Linked DNA regions of Homo sapiens: all the other regions are linked to region 1. Evidence: fine-mapped expression QTL. A gene starts in region 1. Each other region holds a variant in brackets. All regions are shown on one strand. Distances are from middle to middle.

What was found. PIP is the estimated chance that this variant, and not a neighbour inherited with it, causes the effect. A credible set is the group of variants that fine-mapping cannot tell apart.
Region 2: its variant is the best candidate, but not a certain one, in a credible set for the expression of ADAM28 in blood mononuclear cells (TOPMed, PIP 0.90).
Region 3: its variant is the best candidate, but not a certain one, in a credible set for the expression of ADAM28 in monocytes (BLUEPRINT, PIP 0.54).
Region 4: its variant is the best candidate, but not a certain one, in a credible set for the expression of ADAM28 in blood mononuclear cells (TOPMed, PIP 0.59).

Annotation. Positions count from the first base shown.
Region 1 is chr8:24,291,738-24,296,896 of GRCh38, forward strand. It overlaps ADAM28 (ADAM metallopeptidase domain 28), which reads left to right and starts at 2,332. Exons shown (of 23, transcript NM_014265.6): 1 at 2,332-2,458. The coding sequence starts at 2,413. ADAM7-AS1 (ADAM7, ADAMDEC1 and ADAM28 antisense RNA 1) reads right to left here. Exons shown (of 6, transcript NR_125808.1): 5 at 4,417-4,513; 6 at 4,077-4,320.
Region 2 is chr8:24,346,662-24,351,820 of GRCh38, forward strand. ADAM28 (ADAM metallopeptidase domain 28) reads left to right here. Exons shown (of 23, transcript NM_014265.6): 19 at 3,203-3,311; 20 at 4,571-4,649. All of the region lies in intron 3 of ADAM7-AS1 (ADAM7, ADAMDEC1 and ADAM28 antisense RNA 1), which reads right to left. Among named protein-coding and RNA genes, the nearest start is that of ADAMDEC1, 35 kb to the right of the region's middle. The variant G/A (reference allele first, on the strand shown) is at 2,252.
Region 3 is chr8:24,378,965-24,384,123 of GRCh38, forward strand. The region is part of intron 3 of ADAM7-AS1 (ADAM7, ADAMDEC1 and ADAM28 antisense RNA 1); the gene reads right to left. Among named protein-coding and RNA genes, the nearest start is that of ADAMDEC1, 2.7 kb to the right of the region's middle. The variant C/T (reference allele first, on the strand shown) is at 2,362.
Region 4 is chr8:24,365,146-24,370,304 of GRCh38, forward strand. The region is part of intron 3 of ADAM7-AS1 (ADAM7, ADAMDEC1 and ADAM28 antisense RNA 1); the gene reads right to left. Among named protein-coding and RNA genes, the nearest start is that of ADAMDEC1, 17 kb to the right of the region's middle. The variant T/A (reference allele first, on the strand shown) is at 2,819.

The sequences.
Region 1 (5,159 bases):
CCTTTTCCCAGGACTCCTGCCACCAGGATGCACTCCCTGCCCTGTTTGGTGTAGACCTCTGACTTCTATTGATAAATCTATTGTAACACTAAACACCTTGTGATATTGTGATCATTTATAGGTGGTACTCACTCTGTGCAATTTTATGGTAATTGAACTTATCTTTGTCAGATTGTGAACATCTCAATGAAAGTGATTGTGTTTTTTGTTTGTTTGTTTGTTTGAGACACTGTCTCGCTCTGTTGCCCAGGCTGGAGTGTGTTGTTGCAATCTCAGCTCGCTGCAGCCTCTGCCTCCTGGGTTCAAGCAATCAAGCAGTTCTCCTACCTCAGCCTCCTGAGTAACTGGGATTACAGGTGACCACCACCACACCCAGCTAATTTTTTTTTTTTAGTAGAGATGGGGTTTCACCATGTTGGGCAGGCTGGTCTCAAATTCTGATCTCAGGTAGTCTGTCTGCCTCAGCCTCCCAAAGTGCTGGGATTACAGACATGAGCCACCACTCCCGGCCATGATTGTGTTTTTTCAACTGCAATCTCAGTGTCTGACACATAATAGCTGTAAGTAAAATTACGTTGAATTAATGGAGAAAAAATATGTAATAATTAAAAGTTGAAGTATCCTTTCTGTTCCCTGGAAAAGACAAAGCAATGGAACTTGGGTTGAAAAGGCAAGAAATCTGTGAATCGCAATCCTGATGGTTAAAATGCTCAGTAACTAGACTCAAAAATTCCTTTGTGGTTTTAGTTGATGACTGTATAATCATTTGGAGACATCAATAATCACTGTAATCCCTCTAGTATGAGAATGTGTTTCAGAATCTGTAAAATGATGCATGATTTTAGTGGACTAGGACTAGGTTTTGTGGTAATAACTGGTCCTCAGCGTAATTTCTATTCCTTAGGAATTTCATAATTATTTCTATTCTCCCAGAATCTTTTCAATAGAAATGATACTGGGAGTACAAGTCAGCTAAGCCAAGGGAAAGCATTAGAGTATATGACTAAGAGCCCAGACAACACATAGTTCAGATTCCACTTCTACCACTTACTGGATAGGTGACTTTATCTGCTTAATCTTCTTAATCTATACAATGAGGGGACAACTGATTCTTAATCTTTTGAATTTTGCCTTTAAAACCCCAAATTTTCACCTGCAAAATGATTGTAAATGCATAATACATGAGTATCATAAAGACTAATAAAATAACAAGTACAGTAGATTTAGGAGAGTACCTGTATTAGTCCATTTTCATACTATCACGAAGAAATATCTGAGACTGGGTAAATTAAAAAGAGGTTTCATGGCCTCACAGTTTCACATGGCTGGGGAGGCCTCACTCTCATGGTAGAAGGTGAAGGAGGAGCAAAGACACATCTTACATGGAGGCAGGCAAAGAGAGCCTGAGCAGGGGAACTGCCCTTTATAAAATCATTAGATCTTATGAGACTTATTCACTATAATGAGAACAGCATGGGAAAAGCCCGCCCCTTGATTCAATTATCTCCCACTGGGTCCCTCCCACAACACATGGGGATTATGGGAGCTACAATTCAAGATGAGATTCAGGTAGGGACACAACCAAACCCTATCAGTACCTAAAACTTAATAAGCAGCTCAGTTGATATTAGTTATTTTATTGGTTATAAGTATGATTTTTAGACATGCCCAGTTTAGCCTTACTACCACCAGTGACAGATCCTAAAATTGTATCCTTTGGGTCTTGAATCCTTCTTCCACACTCCTCATTGCCAGTTATGACACAAATACCCCCAAGGATCTAAAAATTATTGTGCTTATATTGTCAGACATTCTTATTTCAGGATAGTTCAAACTTCCTGAGAGTACACTTGTGTGAGGAATAGAACATAAAATAATGGAAAAGAGAATGCTATATAGTAATTAGGTTGAATTAGAAATTGCTTTACATAACCACATTATGTATGTGGGGGAAAAATAACATTCTTAATAACTTTTTTCCTACAACTGTATATATATAAAAATATATTTAAACATATATTTATATATCATATCCGTAATGTAAATAAATGTCTAGCATGTTTTTCAAGACTCATTAATGCAGTTGCCTCTTTCCTTGTAGCTTATCTGGCTATAGTAATATGTTGGAAATGTACTACTTTGGAGTGGGGAGTATGGCAAAGGAGAGCAAAACAATAGTTCAGATCAAGTAATCTTAGAGCCAGGAGGCAGCCAGGACTTCCGCCTGCTGGGCCATTGTTGCAGGACCACAGCTTCGAGGTTGCGCAACACCTTTAGTAAACACTTCCTGAATCAGAGACAAGAATGAACCAGGGAGTTTCATTCTGTCTCACTGGAGAGGAGGCAGGGACAGACCCAGCAGCACCCACCTGAGCGAGAAGAGCAGACACCGTGCTCCTGGAATCACCCAGCATGTTGCAAGGTCTCCTGCCAGTCAGTCTCCTCCTCTCTGTTGCAGGTACATATTTAGCTCTTTTTCAGGTTCTATTGAATGCATTAGCGAACTTTTCATAGTCTCCTAATAGTTTTATTGTATAAACTATTTTGACTTTTTTCTTTTTCTTTTTTCTCAATCAATCTTACTAACCAGTTGGGCTGGTTTTAACCTGTTGTTTGGGGGCTGCGAGTGATACAAAGACAATGTTAAAAAGAGGCAACAAGAGGTCTTGAACCAATATGTATGCATCTCATCTGAGAATATACAGAAATAAAAGGGACAATTTCATACAGCACAATTTAAATCATGAATATGATTTTTGACTGAAAAAGTGGAATTCATCAAAACCCAGCTTGTCATTTAAAGAATGGTAAAGATGTGGCAGATTTATTTATTTATTACTGTGTACAAGGCTTAGGAAAATACCTACTATTATTATGGGAGCCAGTTTGGCTCTTTCTGTTTGAGTGTATATTTTTGTATTTACTCATTATTAGTAATAATACGTGTGACTAACTGGAAATAATTAATATTTTTTATTTATAAGGTACTGTGATATTACTTAACAAAATATCTCTGTTAAGCTTAAATTGATAATTTACTTCTATTTTGCTGATTATACCAAACATTTAAAAATTTGAAAGGAGAAAAATACTACTTCCTAACAGGAAATTATGTCTAGCAAGTCTCTCAATTTCTGGTAAATTCTCTAATTAGACTTTGGTTAAATTAGATTGGGTATTGTGATTCTTCAGCTTCTATTTCCAGAGCTTATTTAACTCAGCACATGAACTGCAGTGCCTCGAATTCCTCCCAGTAAACCTGTTCTTGGGTCTTAGAATGTTTGCTGGGACCTGGGGATGGGAACAGATTATCAACTAGAGGTATGGGCTTAGGGAGGGAAAAGTTTTCCTTGTCCATGCACCCTCTTAGTACTTTGTTGCTAAAAATGATTTTCCTGTGTCTCACCTGTTTCTGATTTGTTTTCAAGACTTATAAAAATTTCACTTAACCTAATATCTTTAAATATCGAATTATTTTCCTTTTGTTTCTGTGTATTTTTGCTTTATATAATATGTACCTATATCTGAACTGAACCTTTTCCCACTGTGCTGTGATCCTCTTCATCTCTAATGCCTTTTGCTTTGATACCTATTTTGTCTGATGTGAACGTGTTACACCAGCTTTCTTTTGGTAAAATAAGCCTGAAATATTAAAAATATATATAAAACTCATGCCAGGCATTTAACATTGACCTGAAATTCCTACTTTTTGAGGCAGACTTAATAGAAATGTTTTTTTCTCTCCGTTCTCCAAAAATGCTATCACCAAGAGCTTTTCCAGAACCCCCTCTAAGCTGAAATACAAGAACTGCTTGGGCACTAGCTTAGTTGAAGAGCGTAAAGATCAAGCTGGATCCATTAACAGAGTCACATGGCTAACACTGGGGCCCATGCACATTACAGTCCTTTTGTGCAACTGGGCACACTAATCAGTTCTGCTGCCCCGACGGTGCATGTATAACATGGCACCAAGAGATGCAACTTCCTCTGATGTCAACTCTAAAAGTGTGATGTCACCCCTCCTTTAACTTCTAGCTTCTATTTTTAAGGGTGTCTTTTTGCCACTGAACTATCCCTGTTATGATTCCCATTTGGGTTGCCTTTCTAGTCAGAATATAAGAAGTAAAGCAATTTTCATTTCCCAGTTCTTCCTGTTTGTTCTCTGCCCCCATCATCAAAGCAATACATATGTGCCCCTCTGACCATGACTTCTGCCCAGTCCCCAGATGGTTGAAATAAAAGAAAGAGATGTAAAATAAGGCTGGTTGTGTGCAGTGAACTTCACAATCCCGAGAAAAAATTGACTTATGGGATTTCATCCTAGGAAAAGGAAAAACAAATATTTAAAAGGATGTGACAGGTGTTTGCGGGGTGAAGATGTAAATGATTGCATCAACAAAGGAGAAAGGTGCTTACCTTATTACAGCAGAATACTCAGGGGGTACAGCACTTTTTGAAATTATTTTATTTCAAACTACCAGTTCTTCCTTGCCTTTATAAGGTAACTGGAAGACTGAAAAGAAAATATACAGTTTAATCTAAATAGTCAAAATAACAGACCTAATAGAAATGCAGTTTTTTCCCTTTTGTTTGTACTCACTTTTAATGCATGAAGTTTAAAACCACAAGATGGTTTGAGGAGATGCAGAGAATCCCAGGACATAAGTCAATATCCTTGTGTAAACCCTAATTCAGCGTTTAATATGATGTGTTCAGTTTGGAAAGAAGACATTTCTTTGAACAGTTTCAAACACATTTGAACGAAAATGAAAATGTCAATATTACATACTCATGTTCCCATTTCCAAAATGACCCCAAACACATGAACAAATAATGTAGCAATCCAGACTAATGTCTCTCATATTAACGTTGTTAATGAGCTTTGGCTTTTCTAAGACTCAAAACAGTCAAAAATAATTATCCCATCTAAACCAAAATAACAGTTTTCTTTTTCCTGATCTGGTTTTGCTAGTCAAGACTAATCCAGTGTGTGAGTTCTGTGGGAGAGAGAAGGCAAGTATTAAAATGAATTAGTAAAAACATATTGTGTTACACCTTGGATTTGTGTAATCCCTGGATGGCAGTTAGTTGTGTTTGTTCCTCAGGCTTCAAAAATAATTAACGTGATGTTATTCAGTGGGGAAGACGCTGCACCATTT
Region 2 (5,159 bases), 55 kb after region 1:
GCAGACATGTAAATATAAAGGCAAACCTGATGATTACAAAATGAACGCTCATGTAATATAATAAGGGCCAAGAAATAGACCCAGACATCTGCTTTCCTGCCTCTTTTCAGTCTGATCTCCCCTCTTTCTCTAAGGGTTGACCATTAATCTTTCTTTTGTCATAATCATTTTGTTAGTTTTCTTTGTAGTTTTGCTTCCTAAATACACATCCTTAAACAGCAGCTTTTGGTTATATAATTCCATGTGTATAAAGTTTTTAAACACAGGAAACACAGCTTCCCTCACTATCAACACTGTCACCAGAGACATACATTTGTTACATCCATGAACATACCCGGACACATCATTATCACCAAGAGTCTTTAAAGTTTGTATGTATGAAATTTTTCTATGCTCATTTTCTTCTTTTTCTCTACCTTATGCTTTCAAGATCATCCATTCTAGTGATTGGATTAAGGTCCACTAGTTCTCTTTCAAGTTTCTAAGAATTCTGTCAAATACTTCCTTATTTATTAAAATGTTTTCCCCTTTACTCTATTAGTACTGTCAAATAAGTCAATTGGTTTGTGAACATTTATCTAACTTTGCAACCTTTGAATAAACCTAAGTTAGAAATAATATCTTTTTTATATAGTGAAGGATGTTTACTCTTATTTTATACTCTTGGGTGATATTGGACTGTGATTTTTTCATATTGAAAAAATTGCTGAATTTTGGTATCAAGGTTATGCTAGTCGCATAAAGTGTATTGGAGAGTATTCATTTATATTCTCCGGAAGAATTTGTATTTTTTGGCTATTTTATATTCATGGGTGATATTGGACTGTGATTTTTTCATATACGTGTTCTGTAGTATTCTCCAGATATTTTGTTTATCAAGTTTATTAATTGTCTGATATATAAATTAAGCCTAACATTGTTTATTTGTTCTACCAATTACTGTGCTGGGAGTGTTAAAATACCCCCCACTGTAATTGTGAATTTGATTACTACTTCTGGCTCTATCAATACTTTTATACTTTGAGAGCGTATTATTATATACATACAAGTTTAGAGTGTTGCTTCTTCCAAATTAATGAACAGTGTATCATGATGAAATGGTGCTGTGTCTATCTAGTACACTTCTTACCTTTGAGAATATACACTTCCTGGAGACCATATAGCTGTAACGTATTTGTTTTGGTCTGTATTTGCCCTGAAATAACATTTTTCCATATTTTCATTTTTATCCTTTCTGAATCACGTTTTAAGTCTTTTTTTCTTTTATTAAAGAAAGCATGCACATATAGTTTTTAGTAGTACTCACATCTTTGGTTTTTGTTTGTTTCTTTAACTGAGGAACTTAGTCCGTTTAAATTAAATGTAATTACTGATGTACTTGGGTATAAATCCACAATTATATAGTTTCTATTTGTCTTTCCTGTTTATGTTCCCTTTTCTCTCCTTTCTTACTTTCTTATAGACTTATTGATTTTATTATTTTATTAACTTGGATGTTATGCATTTCTTTTATATTTTAATGATTACCCTAAAACTTCCCAATTCATTTGCTTTTTTAAAAAAATAAACTTAACTTACTTTCTTTTGTAGAGCAGTTTTGGGTTCACAGCGAAATTGAAGAGAAAGAACAGACAGTTGACATATACCCAGCAACTCCCACTCCTGAACAGCTTCCCTCACCATCAACATCCCCCATTCTCGTGGAGTATTCGTTGATGGTAACAAATACTCCATAAACCTACATTAACACATCATTATCACCCCAAGCCCACAGTTTACATTAGGGTTTGCTGTTGGTTCATTTGCCTTTCATTTCTTTCTGCATTTCTGAACTTTTATCTAGGATTATTTTCTGTCTCTCCAGGTCCTTGCCCACTCACTAATCTCTACAAAGTAATTTTATCTAACATTTAAGTACTTTTATACTTTTAGGATGCTTTTGTTTGCTTGTTTGCAAAAAATTTAAAGATTAAAAGATTATTTTTAATGGGCAGGTTGATCTCAATTTCCTAGTCCACCATTACCAGAAACAAGAAGAGGCTGCACTTACTCTTCAGTGATTTCTATCTTCACCTGCAAACCTTCCGTTGTTATACTTCCATCTGTCCTGTGCCCCAATTTTAGCTCCAGACCATGTCTTTTCAAGTTTGGTGTGTTTGTGAAGTACTGCCAAATTCCCATTTATTTCTCTGATAATATGTCATTCTTCTGAAAATAGTTACAGTTCTGATATTAGTGCAAGTAAGTGTAT[G/A]TTTTTCATTCTGAATGTATCTACACTATAACAGAATGCTTCACTGTTTTATTTTCCTTTGACTTTTTGGATTGGAATCTTATGGAGGGTGGCGAGTAGCGAATATTTGAACTAAAGTCATTGTCTTACCTAGAATTCTGCTTCTGATGTGTCTACCTCTATCTGCATGTGTGTGTGTGCTCACACTTGTGAACTTTTCTTGCATTTATACAAATATTAATCATGCTATTGGTTTGCTGATTTCTGTAATAAGAGAACGGTAACTTTTGGCATTGCTTTTCAATCTTTTCCTTCCTGGTCTCTTGTGGTTTCAGATTATTGTAAGAGAAATGAACAGTTAAGAGCAAAAGAGTGAAGTTATATTCATTATTTAAATTTGTCAGTACAAGAAAAAACACCATGGAGGCCCAGGAATATTTGTTCAAACCATTTCCTCATTCTCAAGGTCACATAACTTCCTGTCTAATTCCAGTGTAGACCAACATCAGTGGAACACTCGATTATTTGTCTTCTTAGTCACACCTCAGCTTCTTATTCACTAATGACAGGAATGTATTTTCAAAGTTTTAGTTTCTTTTTCTCTGTTTTATTCCAAGACTGCTTTTCAAAAATGTTTCATTTCTTCTTTGCCATCTTCCTTACTGTATATTCTCTTCTAATCTCCCAGCTCATTTCCCAGTTGTTACAAACATTATCTAAGTATTCTCAATATTATGATTTTTAACTTATTTCATGTTAAATGTTTCCTATAGATTTCATGTGTATTTATTCTACCTAATATTAATATAATTATCCTGATCAAAATACTTTTTCATTTTACTGGCTATGGGAATTTATGTTCATTGGAGAAAAGGGTAGCTGGAATATGTGCTAAGTAAAGAAACAAGGACTAGTGTGTTGTGCAGATGTGTGTTTCTGCAGTCCTCAGCGGGCCCCTGTTCTCTGCTGCAGACTTCTCCATTGTGGTTGGGGTGCTGTTCCCAATGGCGGTCATTTTTGTGGTGGTTGCTATGGTAATCCGGCACCAGAGCTCCAGAGAAAAGCAGAAGAAAGATCAGAGGTGATCCTTTATCTTATCTTGCTGTAGGGACTCTTTGACCCCTATTTTACTTTACTTTAAATTCAATGTATAACCTATCCTTTCAAATTGAATTGGTTTACTTCTAATATTCAGAAATACATGCAGATGGTCTTTTTGGACGAGAAACTGGGTTTCCCTTTAACTGAGAAATCCTTCACATCTAGAAATGTTTTTTGTTTTTCCTTCTGTTAGTCACCGTAGTTATAATAATAAGAGTGATATTAACTCTCATTATGACAGATTTTTTGAATTTGTTGTAAGAATATAATATCTAACATTATTTGATCAATATACGATGAGCACTGTGCTAAGCACCGCCCCACCCACTTTTTTTTGAGACAAGAGTCTCCCTCTGTGGCCCAGGCTGGAGTGCGATGCTGCGATCTCGGCTCACTGCAACCTCCACACCTCCCAGTTTCAAGTACTTCTCCTACCTCAGCCCCGAGTATCTGGGATTACATGCACATACCACCACACCGGGTTATTTTTGTATTTTTAGTAGAGATGGGGTTTCACCATGTTGGCCAACCTGGTCTCAAACTCCTGACCTCAAATGATCCACCCACTTTGGCTTCCCTAAGTGCCGGGATTACAGGTGTGAGTCTCCACACCCGGCCGTGTGCTAAGCCCTTTTATATCTATTATCTTATTTACACTTCACAAGAACTTCATAAAGTGGTCATGAGTTTCATTTTACAGATGAGAAATGTTTTATGCTAACCCTTACACAATTTTGCAAGGTTAGGAACTTCACATTTTGATGGATATAGAAACAAGCTCAGAGAGATTATTAGCAAACATGCTTTCAGTCTTGCAGAGTAAGTGGTGGAGGCTGGGTTTGTCTCACGAACGTGATTCTGGCACAACGGTGTTTTTTTTTTTTTTTTTTTTTTTTTTAGCACTTTTAAAGAAAGACTTATTTACTCATGATGAGTTTTTTAATATTGAGTAAGACATTAATAAAACAACATAATTTAGATAAAATTTGGATTCAACACTATCATTTTTAGAAGTCAGGGGTTTTTGGAGAAAAAAGAAAACTAGTAGTGATTATGAATTACAAGGCAATGAAAGAGGCTGACGGGGAAGTAAAAACTGACCCAGGGAGCAGATAAAAACCCAGGCAATAGGCAAGAAAGACACAATGGGAAAAAGAAGTTGGGAATCTTCTACGGAGTTTCCCTGTCATGCTGAAGGAGCTGCTAAGTCAATTGATATCATGTGTTTCTCTCTTACAGGCCACTATCTACCACTGGCACCAGGCCACACAAACAGAAGAGGAAACCCCAGATGGTAAAGGCTGTTCAACCCCAAGAGGTGAACTATATAGTCTGGGCTGTGATTACCATGGCCCCACTTTGCGTTTCTCTCACACTCTTATCCTGACTACCTATCTATCATTTCTACCCAGCAGCGTTTTGCAGTAACACATTCAGAAATGTCTCCTTTGCCTTTTGTTAAAGGCAAAAGAGTCCCTAAAATGCCGAGGCTACTTTGCCGGGGTTCATGAAATGCAAACAGAATAAAGAGAACAAAGAATGCACATACCGGATGTCTGTCTGTCTCTCTCTTTGTCTCTGCTTCATTCTCTCTCCCTCTCTCACACACACACACTCCCTCTAGCTTATTTCTTTGCAAATTGACAAAATAGATACAAAAATATGTATGTCTGTATGATAATACATGTAATATTTATAACCCAAATGTCCTACTCATGTCCTGTAAATTTAAAGATTTTAGCTGAAGTTGGTTAATAACATTGGTAATCATTTATAACATTGGTAATCATTTTTTGATGAAAACTTTTCATTACAGCTCTGGGAAATA
Region 3 (5,159 bases), 87 kb after region 1:
ATATGTTATATATGTATATACAACACGTATACAAATATTGGTTGTATTTCTATATGTTATCAATAAATAATGGAGAAATAATTTCATTTACGATACCATCGAAAAGCAAAAAATATTTCAAAACACATTTGATGAAATTTGTCCACGTACTCTATTTTAAAAACTACAAACCATCAATGAGACAAATATTTAAAAAGACCTAAGCGAAGAAATACACGTGTTTATGCATCAGAATATCAATTATTACCAGTTTGGCTCAATGATTCAATGCAATCCCAATCAAAATCCTAGTAAGATCTTTATTGGGAACTGATAGGTTGAATCAAAATTGGTATCAAAATGTAGCAGACCCAGAAGAGCCAAAACAAACTTGTAAATAAGAACAATGGATTACATACACTACTTGTATTATATATTATACATTATATATTATGTAATATATAATATATGTAATTATATATTAAATATACATTATATATACAACCTATGTACACTATACAGATATATAATGTTAGAAGAAATGTGAGAATTGTAAAGGCAAAAAGATAATGTGTTATACACATTTTATATTATATATATGTATTTTTTTCTAGCTCATCAAGGTATCATTAATGCAAGATTTATTTCATTGATCTCCATAGCAAAAAGTATAATTTATGTGCATAAACTTGTATCTTTATTTGGGCTCTGAATATAACAATAAGTTTTTGCTATGTTACTTCAGTCTTAGCAATTATAATTTTAAGATAAAAATGTTCATAATTAGAAAAAACAGAAAAACTGGATGTACTGACATTATATGGGTCAGCAAAATTGGTAGGATCCAGACAAGATATTTAAACTTTTTTTTGTTTAAATATATTTTAAATAGGGTTGTAATGAACATAAAATGTTTGAATGCATGCAAGCCACTTAGAACAATGCATGGCTATATAATTGTTAGCTAATATTACTATTAACACAGCTTCATCCAGTAGGGATTCCTGGTGGGTTTGGACAAGCTCAGATTGGAAAAAATTATCTCATTAGATAATTCCAATATATTGATAGACCACCGAGGTAGGGAACATGATCCCTCCCCCAATGCCAGTCATAAGCAAATAGGGATTCCTGAGCATCAAAGGAGTTCAGAGCTTGGCCACCACTATGTTACTTCTCATCTCGAACCTCTGACTCTTACATTATCATATCCTTGAGACAGGCTTCTTCTTTGCAGCAGTTGAAGCCATCATAGAGATCTCCCACAGTAAAATATTTGAAATTCTTTATCAAGCACGTCTTTTCCCACCTTAATGACCTTGGAGACATCTATTACATACCTGGGTGATTTGAAGTATACTAGATCACCTAACCTCTTTGAGTCATCTATAAAATGGGAACCACAATCTTTGAACTGACTACTTGTATCTGTTGTTATTATGACCAAAGAAAATCATGTATGCAAAAGTCGTTACTTGTGCAAGACATTATCATAATTTTTGTCCATGTTACTGCTCTATTTTCATTTGTAGCTTGACAACATTTAAACATCCGCCCCAAATCAAAAATATGTTATTATGCAACATTCTAAAATGTTAAGTTGCAAGCTTTATGGGAATAAAATTCTTTGTAATCAGGATGTTGGTCGTGATTTCTTAGTTTTAGGATCATAAATTAAATCCTATGTTTAGTCAATCCTTAAATATTGTCTTCATAAGGCTCTGTATATATTCTATTTCTCATTCCCTCCAGATGCATTGGGTAAACAATTTCTTCACTGTTATTCCCACAGTTTTGATTTATAGGCTGATATTCAACTATCTAATAAACAGCATCTGTATCTTATGCAGAGTTTAGTTTTCAAATTTTTTATGGTATTCATATATTAAATGAATATTTTAAACATCTATTATCATCATGGTGCTGTGGTCCTGAAGGGTGCCCCAGGATATATAACTCCATTTTTAATGGATTAACAAACTGCAACTTCCATCAAGACACCAAATTGGAAGATTTATATAGTGGCTCAAGCTGAACCTTAGAACTCATTCTAGATTCCTCTGTGTCTTCCAACTGGGAGTGGCTACATACAATCAATCAGCAAGTCTGATAATTGTGTAAGCTAAGTATCTCTCAAATATGTACCTTCTTTAAGATCATTTGTTCCCCCATAACTTGGCCTCTGCATGTGTTATAAGTTTTATATCACATACCTATTACTTTTTTATTATAAAGTTCTGGGATACATGTTCAGAACGTGCAGTTTTGTTACATAGGTATACACATGCCATGGTGGTTTGCTGCATCCATCAACCCGTCACCTACATTAGGTATATCTCCTAATGCTATCCCTCCCCTAGCCCCCCACCCCCCAGCAGGCCC[C/T]GGTATGTGATGTTCCCCTCCTTGTGTCCATGTGTTCTCATTGTTCAACTCCCACTTATGAGTGAGAAAATGTGGTGTATGGTTTTCTGTTCTTTTGTTAGTTTGCTGAGAATGATGGTTTCCAGCTTCATCCATGTCCCTGCAAAGGACATGAACTCACCCTTTTTTATGGATGCATAGTATTCCATGGTGTATATGTGCCACATTTTCTTTATCCAGTCTATCACTAATGGGCATTTGGGTTGGTTCCTTTATGTTACGTTCAAGTCATGAGGAACATACACTTCAACAAACAGTATGATTTTCTATATACTCATGGTTTTGCTCATAGTACCAGCTCCACTATTCCTTTTCCAGGTATTATCTGATTCTCTCCACCTATCAAGTGATATGGCCTTTCTAAAATTGATTTCAGCACAATACACAAATATCAATCATAATACTTCATATTTGTACAGACTACCTGTTTGTGGTTGTGTCTCCATTATTAGACTTTATTGTGGGAATATGTGAATAGCAAGGACAGTATCAGTCAGCTTAGAATCCTTAGAAATGTAGTAGCAATTTATTAGAAACACAACTTTAATATGATTTCAATAAATATTCAACTGCCCTAGCAATACTAGTTGTATAATTAATAAGCAAATTAGTTCCCGCTAAATAGCCAGAAAGCAAAATTGTCCACAGCAATAATGGTCACCAAAAGATAGCCAAATCTCATCCAGTAGAGAAACTGCTGAATCAAGTGGTAGTTAGACTTTTAGCTCTTTATGGAATCTCCACACTGTTTTCCATAGTGGCTGTATTAGTTTCCATTCCAGCCAGCAGTGTAGAAGTGTTCCCTTTCACTGCATCCACACCAACATCATCTATGATTTTTTTATTTTTTATAATGGCCATTCTTATGTGAGTAAGGTGGTATTTCATTGTGTATTGCATGTTTATAGCAGCAAAATTTACAATTGCAAAAACGTGGAACCAGCCCAAATGCCCATCATTCAAAGAGTAGATAAAGAAACTGGTGTATATATGTATATACCACACACACATATATGATGTATACCATACATACATGCATATATACCATATATATGCACCACATATACACCATGTATTTGATGGAATACTACTCATTCATGAAAAGGAATGAATTAATGTCATTTGCAACAACCTGGATGGGATTGGAGACTATTATTCTAAGTGAGGTAACTCAGGAACAGAAAACTAAACACTGTATGTTCTCACTTATAAGTGGGAGCTAAGCTATGAGGATGTGAAGACATAAGAATGATACAATGGACTTTGGGGACTCAGGGGGAAAGGATGGGAAGCCAGTGAGGAATAAAAGACTACTAATTGGGTTCAGTGTATACTGCTCAGGTGACGGGTACACCAAAATCTCACAAATCACCACTAAAGAACTTACTCATGTAACCAAATACCACCTGTTCCCCAAAAACCTATAGAAATAATAAAAAAGAATATGTTTAATGAAGAATTAAAAAAAAAATAACTGATGCTAAAAGGACCTGCGAGCAAAGAAGGTGGTACACATGAATAATTTCAAACATCTGTAGAAAACACACACAAAAATAATGAGTAACATGGGGGTCAAAATCATGATAAACTAAAATACTTGACAACAACATGTAATGTGCTAAAGGGTAGGGCACTGATAAGAGTTCACCATTCCAGGATTCTTTTATTATTTGATGATAGAGACATAATTAGCATTATACTTTGTTAAAATATTAATGGCGGGTCATAAAGGATATAAGAAGGATGCCTATCTCTGGACCAGAAAAAGAAATGCAAAATTATAGAGAAAATGTTACTATTTTAAAGGAAGGTAGAACAGCAACAAAGTGAAGAATAGACATAGAGAGGGGATTTTTAAAGTTCCAATTAGATGTTAGGAAACTCCCAGATGTATCAGTGAAAAGTTAAGTTCAGCAGTTAGAAGGTATGGGTTTTTAGATTGGGAAAACTATACATAATGATTTAATTTGGCCCTAACTTTCTGAAAAGCACTGAGTCAATGTTTATCAATAATCTCAAGTTGATTTACCCTTTTTAGCTAAATAATAGCACTTCTAGACATTTATCCTGAAGTCACCAGAAATTCAATTAAAGAAATATACACAACCAAACATTACATGGACACTCAACACACACATATGTAGAAAATATGATATTCTAAAATCACTAAAATTATGTCTTAATATTCAATGTCATGAGAATGCTTATGTCATAGTGCCATGGAAAAAAAAATAAGTTTCTTAAACCCTTTGCCCAATAAGGTTAGCTTTCCTTTTCTGCATAAGAAGATGAAAATAAATTGTAAAAACGTTAACAGAAGTTATTTCTTGATGTCGGATCATTGGCAGTCAACTTTTTTCTCATAATAAACTTGTGATATTATAATCATGAAAATCTACCATATTTGTCAGAGAAACATTGTTATTGTATAAGGTAGAACTCAGAAAGTACACCTCGAACATACTTCATATGTTGTATAGTTCGGTTAAGGCCAGCACTGTCAAGGTTATTTAAATTTCTTGTACATTTCTTATACATGCACATTTCTTTACAATTTTACATGCATGTGCATATGTGTGTGTGCAAATGCATATGAATTTTATAAGAATCTTGAGGCAGTTAAAATTATCAGCATCCCCTGTTGACTCATTAGGAGACTGAATGTTAGAGAGATTTTCAGTATCTTGGTTTGTAGGACTTTACCTGGTGCTTTTTAGATTCTGTGTTCACTGTGACAGTATCTCAAAATATGTACAGAA
Region 4 (5,159 bases), 73 kb after region 1:
CATATTTTGGGGAAATTAACATGGACTGAATTCATACAATTTTTAGAAAATAAAGTCATAGCCAATTTCAAATTTGATTATTTCTTAAAGTAAGGATATCATAAGGTAATAACAAAAGTACACAGTAGCACATTCTGATTTATGCAAGTTTGTGTGTATTTTTGTGTGTTCGTATGTGTGCATGTATAATTTCACTTAACATTTATGACAGTCTTGCACAGGAATCTTACTTCCTTTCACACAACCACACTGTCTGCAGCAAAACTATTTTGCACTGAGAAGCACATTTAATACTATATTATTAAATATGAGAATTCTATTTTATCTCCAGCAACAAATTCTTCTAGGCAATGTTTCCAGTGAAAGTGTATCTGAAGTTGCAGTCAAATCTTTTTTTAATTTTTTCATTTCCAACTTTTATTTTAACTTCAGAGGTACATGTGCAGGATGTGCAGGTTTGTTACATAGGTAAGTAAACAGGTGCCATGGTGGTTTGCTGCAGATCATTCCATCACCCAGGTATTAAGATCAACATCCATCAGCAATTCTTTCTGATCTTCTCCTCCTCCCAACCCCCTCTGACAGGCCCTAGTGTTTGCTGTTCCCCTGCATATGTCCATTTGTTCTCATCATTTAGCTCCCACATATAAGTGAGAACATGTCATATTTGGTTTTCTGTTTCTGTGTTAGTTTGCTTAAGATAATGTGCTCCAGTTCCATCCATGTCACTGCAAAAGACATGATCTCATTTCTTTTTATGGCTGCATAGTATTCCATGTTGCTTATATACCACATTTTCTTTATCCAGTCCATCACTGATGGGCATTTAGGTTGATTCCATGTCTTTGCTATTGTGAATGGTGCTGCAATGCAGACAGTGGATGTGTCTTTTTAACAGAACAATTTCTATTCCTTTGGTTATGTACTTAGTAATGGGATTGCTGGGTCAAAAGGTATTTCTGCCTCTAGGTCTTTGAGCAATCGCCACACCCTCTCTTACAACAGTTGTACTAATTTATACTCCCACCAATAATGTAAAAGCATTCCTTTTTCTCCACAGCTTTGCCATCATCCATTGTTGACTTTTTAGTAATAGCCATTCTGCTGCAGTCAAATCTTATGCCCCTTGATTTTCTACTCCTGAAAATCCGTTCTCATTTTTCCCCATTCTTGTTACTAGTGATTAGCAGAGAGCCTGGGAAATGGTAAGCACTCAATAAATCAACTAACAAAAGTCTTCCACCAAGATTCTGAGCTTAATACATTGTGTAATTTACACTTATCTGGTTGTTTTCTGTAATTCTGCAATACAAACATTTACAAAGTCTCCATTTACTAAGTGGACACTGGAGCTAGAAGGATTAACCTCTTTCCCTGCCGTCCAGGGATTCTCATCCTAGCTCTAGAGACTGACATAAATATAGAAATAAATAATCACTAAAATAAATTGCTAAACTATGAGAACAAGAAAGTACAGAGGAAATGTTTATCAAGAGAAGGCATGAGAAGTTTCTCAGAGGAGGTGCCGTTTAAATCTTGAACTCTAGGCAATTTATCAGATCTATAAAGGAAAAAGAGAAAAAAAAGTCTTCTAGAAAATAACGGAGTTAAATAATAGCCTTGCTAAGTCATGAATCCACAAGGGCCATGACATGTTCAGGGAACTGCAAGCAGATCATCAAGACTATGGAAAACCAAAAATTGTTATTTTTGAATACGTTTAGGTATTTATATATACCATGTTTCATCAAAGATACATACATATTTGTGCATACACAAACTTAGGAGATTTAGAAAAGTATAACACCCCCCAAAAATGAACATTTAAGAAAATCAGAAAGCAAGAAAGTTCTAGAAACCATAAAGCCATGGGTCAGATGAGACTTGTGAAATTTAAAATATACGGCCCTACGTGTTTGATAAATATGAGCTCCAAACTGTACTCCAAACTATCTAAGAATAAAAAAGTAAACAAGAAAAGTAAACAGGATTTATATGAGACTCACAGTGTCTATAAAGAACAAACATACCATCATGGAAGACAGCAAAACCACATAAACACAACAAAATCAGCCAAGTGAATAAAAATTAATGGTTAAGACTGAGCTGTACATACCATCATGGGAGACAGCAAAACCACATAAACACAACAAAATCAGCCTAGTGAATAAAAATAAAAAAGACTGAGCACAGCTCTTTTTGCTTCTGAGACCTAAAATTTGTACTCAGGATGGTGTTGCTGTTGTATCCAACTAGAGAACCTGTCTGTACCTTTTGCTTGATTCCCCACCCTGGGAGCCCCTCAGTACTTCATGGCTACAGACTCTTGGCTGCCTGCCCTAACCACACTGCAGTCACACACACAGTCATAAATAAACCCCAGCAGGAAGCGAGACATAGGCTCAAATTAGAACACCCTCTCAACCTTTTCATCAATAACTTTCAGCACTGCTCAGGGTAATGGAAAAATTGTTTCTAACTGAGCTGCATATCATGAGTTTGGAAGCCAAGTAATAGCTTGCCTATTCATATCATCACTGAACAAGTTATTTCACCTACTTTTAGAATACTTGAAATACTTTTTTAATATAGATCATAGCATCTTTAAATTTTCCTTCGAGGGAATTCAGTATCTGAAAACACAGTGGCTTTAGTGACATTGGTTACAGTTTTATCACTGCCTAATCATTAATTATAATTTTTAAAGGTTCTCAGTTGATTATTTGAGGAACTGTATTTTCCTTACAGAATAATTCCTAGGTATATTGGATGATCTTTTCCGGTGACTAAAGTATATGTAGGGTGTTTGTTACAATAT[T/A]TGTTCTCTTATCCTTTAATTATTTTGTTTGTAATCAATCCAGCATGGAGTAAAAGAAATAAGAGTAAAGTAATATGTATATTTTTTATTTTCTAAAAATATTGAAAGAGTTCTTCATGTAATAATGGTTCTTGACAAAATGTATCAAGAACCATTTATACCAACCACTTTATACTAACAAAATCTGAACACAGAGGGAAGGAATCAAGATGTCAGTATTTTAATAAGTTCTAGAGATGAATCTAATGTATACTCTTGATTAAGAAACAAAGATTTAATGGAAATATCTCGGCTCTAGTTGGCTACCAACATCTTATGCCTACTATTATCTTAAGAGATTAATTGTATGCTGTAAGTATTGATCTTGATTATTCATGCAAATTAGTATCCGAAATAGCAAAAGTAATTTGATTATAAAAAATTCAAATTCAAAAATATATGTTTGTAATGTCAACTGTTTATCCAAAGAATTTTCAAATTCTAAACATAGGATATTTAACTGGTGGTACTGCTAAAGCCTCTGACTTTACCTGGAATAAAATTATTATGTTTTGTTTTTATTACAGTAGTTTTTGGGGAACAGGTGATGTTTCATTACATGGATAAGTTCTTCAGTGGTAATTTCTGAGATTTTGATGCACCTGTCACATGAGCAGTGTACACTGTACCCAATATGTTGTCTTATCCCTCACTCCCCTCCTAACCTCCTCCAAGTTCCCCAAGTCCCTTATATCATTCTTATGCCTTTGCATCCTCACAGCTTAGCTCCCACTTAGAAGAGCCTAGGATATTTGGTTTTTCCATTTCTGGGTGACTTCACTTAGAATAATGGCCTCCAGCTCCATCCAAGTTGCTTTAAAAGACATTATTCCTTTTTATGGTGGAGTGGTGTTCCATGGTGTACATACATCACATTTTCTTTATCCACTCATTGGTTGATAGGCATTTAGGTTGGTTCTTTATCTTTGCAATTGTGAGTTGTGTTGCTATAAACATATAAACATGCACATGCACATGTACTTGTGCCTTCTTCACAAAATGACTTCATTTCCTTTGGGTAGATAGCCAGTAGTGGGATTGCCGGATCCAGTGGTAGTTCTACAAAGTAAAATGTTTAAAAAAGGCAAATAATCTTGAAAAGATCAGCTTGTAAATAATGAGTAAAAGAAAATATTCAGACTTGAGATTATGATTTCTCTCCTGGTGGTTGCTGAAAAACTTTATATAAAAATATCAAGCATAAATAAGAAAATATTCATGACTATAGCAGAATCCAAAGCATTTTGGGAAACTCATAATAGGTGCAGCACTCTGTTCTTTCATTCATTAGAGGTTCATGCCTATGACCATGCACAAAAGACATGGCTTTTTAAAAATAGGCTATATTTTAGAGCAGTTTTAGGTACTTAGAAAAAAATTGAGCAGAAAGCAGAGATTCTTCCCTGCTCCCACACACAGCTTCCCCCACTATCAACATCTCATACCAGGATGATATACTTGATCATTGATGACTCTCCTTTGTTCCATTATTTTCATCCAATGCCCATAGTTTAAATTAGGGTTTATTCCTGGTGTATCTTCTCTTCTATGGGTTTTGACAAGTGTATGACGACATGTATCCACCATTATAGTATCATACAGAATAGTTTTACTGCCTTAAAATTCTCTTTTCTCTGCCTATTCATCCCTCCCTCCTCCCTAACTCCTGGCAGCCATTGTTCCTTTTACTATTAATAGTTTTGCTTCTTTCAGAATAGCATTATCATTGGAATCAAACAGTACATAACCTTTCAGATTGACTTCTTTCACTTAGCAATATTCATTTAAAGTTTCTCCATGTCTTTTCAAGCAACATAACTCATGTCTTTTTAGGGCAGAATAAAATTCCAATGTTTGGATGTCCCTGAGAGTAGCAGAATGTACCACTTCAAACGATGCCACTTTGACATAGGATGACTTCAAACTGAAGTCATTTGAATTACAGCAGGTGCAAGAAGGGGGCATTCCAATCATCCACCTTTCTTCCTGAAAACAGGAGATTAAAACTCCCATGTGAATGATTTTATCCTTGTATCAGTAGAAAGGAAACATTCTTCAATGCGGAGTCACAGCTGGGAGGATTCTGTAAAACCAGACCTTGTTAAAATAATGACCTTCCTTTGGCCTCCCCATATAATGTAGTTACTTTCCACAATTGCTTCTCTTTGTTCAATGTAATAAAGCATGGAGGCTTTGCCACTCTTTGGGTCTTGGTTCCCTGGGAGCTTTATGCGGCTCCCATGCCACATAAAACTTGTATTGTATAAATTTGTATGTTTCTCTCCTGTTTATCTGTTTTATA